Regions from separate parts of the Homo sapiens genome. Here region 2 is linked to region 1. A link means that fine-mapping ties the variant in region 1 to the expression of a gene that starts in the linked region. Tissue or cell type: whole blood. Region 1 holds a variant in brackets; the other region holds the start of a gene. All regions are shown on one strand. Distances are between the middles of the regions.

Region 1 (2,762 bases):
AGTTTCTGATGCCCCTGAAAGCTGTGTAATAGATTGTGAAGAAGAGGCAGGGATAGAATCCCGAAAAGGAATGGAAAGTTCACATTGTAAATATGTAGCAGAGCCGGTAATGGCTCGGTCAACACAAAATGTTGACTATAATCAATTACAGGAGGTGATATATACTGAAACGTTAAAATTAGAAGAAAAAGGAACCTTAGATGTAGACCTGTTAAAACAGGGAAGGGTCTGAGTAACCATGGAAAATATGGTCACTCTATTCAGGGTGTTGGAAAAATACTGTCCTTGGTTTCCTGAAAAAGGAACCGTATATGTAAAAGTATGGGATCGTGTTGGTTCAACATTCTGGGAGCTGGTCCCAGCAGGGAATTATGTTCCCGTCACTGTTTGGGGTGATTAGGCCTTGGAACGTGCCATCCTAATACCTCCTCAACTTTCCTCTCCCACACGGCCTTCATTATCTGATCAGCCTCTTCCTTCGGCTACTCCTCCCCCACCTAACGATGCTGAAAATTCAATGTCTAACTCTGGTGACTTTGGCTTAAAGTTACCCCCTACTTATCTTCTTTTCATGAAGAACTGGTACTTGAAGCTCCCGCGGCCATGACTCACACAGCCCAGGACCATAGATATGCTAATTCTTGTCTCTTCAAATGGCTCCAGGACCAAACTACAATTTACCTATAATTCTCCAGGCCCTCCCCCATCCACTACAGCCCCTCACCCTCCTGTCGTTTCGGTTCCTCAACCGGTCTGTGTCGATATGCACTGCTCAATCTTACTTTTTTTAAAAGAATTTAAGGATGCTTGTACTCAGTCAGTATGGTCCTACTTCTCCTTATGTTAAAATGGTATTACAAACTTTTTGTATGGAGGTCACTTTACTTCCTTTAGACTTGGACCTTTTGGCAAAAAGCTGTTCTAACCCCATCTCAGCCTGGTGGGCAGAGGAGGCCCATGTTCAGGCTCAGCTAAATCAGACTAATGGCATTCTAACTACTCAGGCTCAGCTCACAGGCTCCAATAGTTTCTCTGATACTTAAGCCCAAGTAGGCTTTGATGCTCCTACCACAAAACAAGTAACAAAGGTGTGTATGAGAGCTTGGGATAAATTACGTGCCCCAGGCCAAGCTCCTGTTTCTTTTACTACTGTTAAACAGGCTCAATTGCTTTTACTACCTAATATCGTTTTAAACAAAGGAGATAAGACACGTGGCTCTGGGATAGACTCTGGTGGTAAAAAGGCTGCTTATTGGATTAATACAATTTCTAAACAACGGCCCACCTTCACCATACACATTCAAGGAAAAAAGTTTTGAGGGCCTAGTAGATACTGAGGCTAAAATTAATATTCCATATAACTCTTATAGTGTTCCCGGTCGGCATATGATGAAAAACATGGGTTTGTTCCTGGGCTAGGTCTCGGTCCGAAGCATGAAGGGATTA[T/C]TAAACCCCTCCCAATTACTATAAAATAAGACAGTAATGGTTTAGATTATCCTTTTTAGTGGTGGCCACTGCCATGCCTCCTGATCCTATCCCTTTACAATGGAAATCTGACACACCTGTTTGGATTCAGCAGTGGCTGCTTTCTAAAGAAAATCTGGAGGCTTTAATTCAATTGGTTTCTGAACAGTTACAACTTGGAAATGTGGAACCTTCTCTTTCCCCCTGGAATTCTCCTATGTTTCTAGTAAAAAAGAAATCAGGCAAGTGGCGTATGGTAACCAATTTATGGGCCATTGACGCTGTAATTAAACCTATGGGAGCTGTCCAACCCAGCATGCCTGCCCCTGCTTTAATACCTAAAAATTGGTCTCTCATAGTTATTGGTCTTAAAGATTGTTTTTTCATATTGCTTTACATAAATCGGATTGTAAAAAATTTGCTTTTACTGTACCATCTATCAATAATCAGGAGCCTGCAGCTCATTATCAATGGAAAGTACTTCCTCAGGGAATGCTGAATAGCCCTACAATCTGCCAGCTTTATGTCGGACAAGTGCTTTCACTAGTTCGAGCCCAATTTCCCCAGGCCTATATTCTTCATTATATTGATGATATTTTAATTGCTACCCCAACTAATAAAGAATTAATTGACTGTTATCAAATTTTAAGCCGCTGTGTTACAGAGGCTGGATTACACATCACTCAGGATAAAATTCAACAGACCACTCCTGTTCAATATTTAGGAATGGTGGTCGATAAACAACGTATTCAACCTCAAAAAGTTCAAATTAAGAGAGTTTCTTTGAAAACTTTAAATGACTTCCAAAAACTTTTAGGTAACATTAATTATTTAAGACCTACAGACAGCTTATTTCTACCCCTTATGCCTCTGCTCAAAAGGCAGAGTTAATTGCTGTAATTACTGCCTTACAGGATTTCCCCAAACCTTTAAATATTGTCTCTTATTCTCCTTAACGTAGGAAAGAGAATATGCTTGTGTTTCACCAGGAGATCATCAAACAAAAACCACAAAGAAAAGACGTCTGTGTCACAGACTGCCCTCAGACGTAGTGAGATCTGTGCCGACTCCTCAGAAGCAGGCACACCAAATCACAATGGGTCTGATTCAATCCTCCCTGATGGCAATGGAGACCCATCTAACTAATCCCACTTCTAATTACCTCTCTTTTTCTCCTTACAAACCTAAAAATCTCACCATTTCTATTAGCCTGAAAATAACATCCCTCTGTTCTCTTCCTCCTTCAGCACTCAATCTCATTTACAATAGGTTTTATTTAATGATTCTCCTCCTTATAC
Region 2 (2,762 bases), 29 kb before region 1:
CATGGTTCCTGAGGTCTCAGGCTCATGAAACTCATTTCACTAATTTGGGAAAGCCACCTGACCTTTCTGGGCCTGTTTTTTAACCTGTTGATTGATAAAGTTAAAATTTCAAGTTCCCTATAAACAACAACAAAATAAAAAAAGGAAAAAATAAATAAAAACCAAAGGGAAGGAAGATACAAACAAACAAAAATAATAAAAACAAAATAAAAAAAAATTCAAGTTCCTTTTCATCTAAAATCATTTGCGTCATCCCAAGCTGCTTAGCCTTCAGTAGCCTCAGGTCCTAACTCCAAGCCAGGTCCCATGAGCACTCCCAACCCTTATTGTGGACACTACTCAAAGGTTGCGACTCATGGGTCTCCAGGCTATAAACCAGTTCTACACATTCACCCCCAACTTTCAAACAGGGAGAGCCTTAGGTTTCCTCCCATCTCAATTCAACTGGCTCACACAGCACATGTCACCTCTCACTCTGCCCCACGTGTTGGAGATGCTTCTCCTCCCCTCCCCCTAAGTCATAAATCATTATCAAAATCTCCCGACCTCCAGTGCCTGGAATGTAACCCTGATTCTGGACAATTCACCTCCAACTCGCAGGTAACCTGGGCCATAAAGCTAATTGCCTCCATTCAGCCTGTAATCTAGATGCCTCGGCCCAGGGCTCACTCTACCCCTCAAACCTTTCCAGTCTCTAGACCCTTAGTGGAATTAATCAGCCCTCACATTCCCTAACCCAACACTTCAACACTGAATCCCTCGGGCACTCCAATCCTAACTCAGACTGCCCCGACCTCCAATTTGGACCCTCTCCGAAATGCCCCACCAGAACCGAGACCCCGGCCAGCGTTCCCCGCAGGCCTTAGTCCCCGGCCCGCTCCGGGCAGGTCCAGGGCTTCTAGATCTCCGGCCGCCTTGACCTTGGAGTTCAGCAGGCTCCGCCGCCAAGCCCAGTCCTGCCGCTCACCTGGGTCCCTTTACCGGCCCCGGGAGGCCCCAGCAGCACGGCCCGGATGCCTTTAGGATACTCGGGTTCTGCCGCTGGCACGCTGGGAGCCATGTCCGCCGAAGTCTCTCACTGCCACCAGTTCGCACGCCTCACAGGTCCAGTGCTTCCCAGGTCAACGCACGCACGCCACGCACGTCCCACTCGCCGCTCACACTGGCCCATAGCCGCGTCCGTCAGCCCGTTCCGCCCGCCCCTGAGCACGACGGACTCTTCACCTTACCAACTGCACGGCGATACTGAGGAACTTTGCTTTTGATTGGACAGAATTGGTGCGGGATAAGGAAGGGGCGGGCCAGCATGTACTAAGGGTGGCGGGTGTGCGGAGTGGGCGGGAAAACGCGAAGGAGGACAGGAGGTCAGGCCGGAAGGTATACTTCGGCATTTGACAGTTGACGACACCAGCAACAACATTGAAATCCTATTAAATTGCGCGTGGGAGTTTAAATGGGTAAAATCACTCTTAGAAGACAAATTAGTAATATGTTTCAAATACCCTTTGGTCCAGCAATTCCACTTCCACGAATTCAATGGATAAAATCAAGGATATGAGTAAAGATTCGTGTAACAAAGTTGTTAATTGCAACACTTAGCCCAAAAGCCCGAGAAAAACCATAAAATAAAGGCAATACTCCAAATGTCCAACAATAAGAGATTGGTTAAATAAATTGCAACCAATTTGTATCCTGGAATACCCCTGTTGTATAAGATAATTTAATCATGCGGGAAAATGTTAGCAAAGCGAGATACAAAATTGCAGTTACAACAAAATCCGAATTTTGGCCGGACGCGGTGGCTCACGCCTGTAATCCCCACACTTTGGGAGACCATGGCGAGCGGATTACCTGAGGTCAGAAGTTCGAGACCAGCCTGACCAACATGATGAAACCCCATCTCTACTGAAAATACAAAATTAGCTGGGAGTGGTGGCATATGCCTGTAATCCCAGCTACTTGGGAGGCTGAGGCAGGAGAACTGCTTGAACCCAGGAGGCGGAGGTTACAGTGAGCCAAGATTGAGCCATTACACTCCAGCCTGGGCAACAAGAGTGAAACTCCGTCCCACTCCCCCCCCAAAAAATCCCGATTTTGTTTATTACAAGTGTAGACCGCTGTGTAGTGTGATTAGAGGAGCACCTCTCCTTTGTATATTTTAATAGATTTTTTAAAGTTCTATGGTAAATTCTTAATAAGTTTAAAAACTTAAGTTTAAAACAAGTTTTACCTTTATATTAAGAAAAACGTTAACCTTTTAAAGTCAGGAAAAGATAGTTTTTCTCAAAAGAGATGACCCTCTTGGATAGGGAAATAATTTCTACAGCTTTTTGGTGTGTGAAAGTTTCATCCAGCTCCAAGGGCCTCTTTGGACCTTTAGTTAAGAGTGTGTAATGAAACGATTATGTTTCCCCACAGGCTCCTAACAACTCATTTTCTACATCTTGATGATGAATTTGCTATCCCTTCAGCTGTGGTCTCTTCTTTTTTTTTTTTTTTTTGAGACGTGGTCTCGCTCTGTTGCCCAGGCTGGAGTGCAGTGGCGCGATCTCGGCTCACTGCAAGCTCCACCTCCTGGGTTCACGCCATTCTCCTGCCTCAGCCTCCTGCGTAGCTGGGACTATAGGTGCCCACCACCACGCCTGGCTAATTTTTTTTATACTTTTAGTAGACACGGGATTTCACCGTGTTAGTCAGGATGGTCTTGATCTCCTGACCTCGTGATCCGCGCGCCTGGGCCTCCCAAAGTGCTGGGATTACAG

What was found. PIP is the estimated chance that this variant, and not a neighbour inherited with it, causes the effect.
Region 2: it holds the start of AK2, and the variant in region 1 is fine-mapped to the expression of AK2 in whole blood (TOPMed, PIP 0.99).

What each region holds. Positions count from the first base shown.
Region 1 is chr1:33,064,919-33,067,680 of GRCh38, forward strand. No RefSeq gene overlaps it. Among named protein-coding and RNA genes, the nearest start is that of AZIN2, 15 kb to the right of the region's middle. The variant T/C (reference allele first, on the strand shown) is at 1,447.
Region 2 is chr1:33,035,769-33,038,530 of GRCh38, forward strand. It overlaps AK2 (adenylate kinase 2), which reads right to left and starts at 1,115. Exons shown (of 6, transcript NM_001625.4): 1 at 968-1,115. The coding sequence starts at 1,060. RefSeq lists an enhancer at 934-1,093.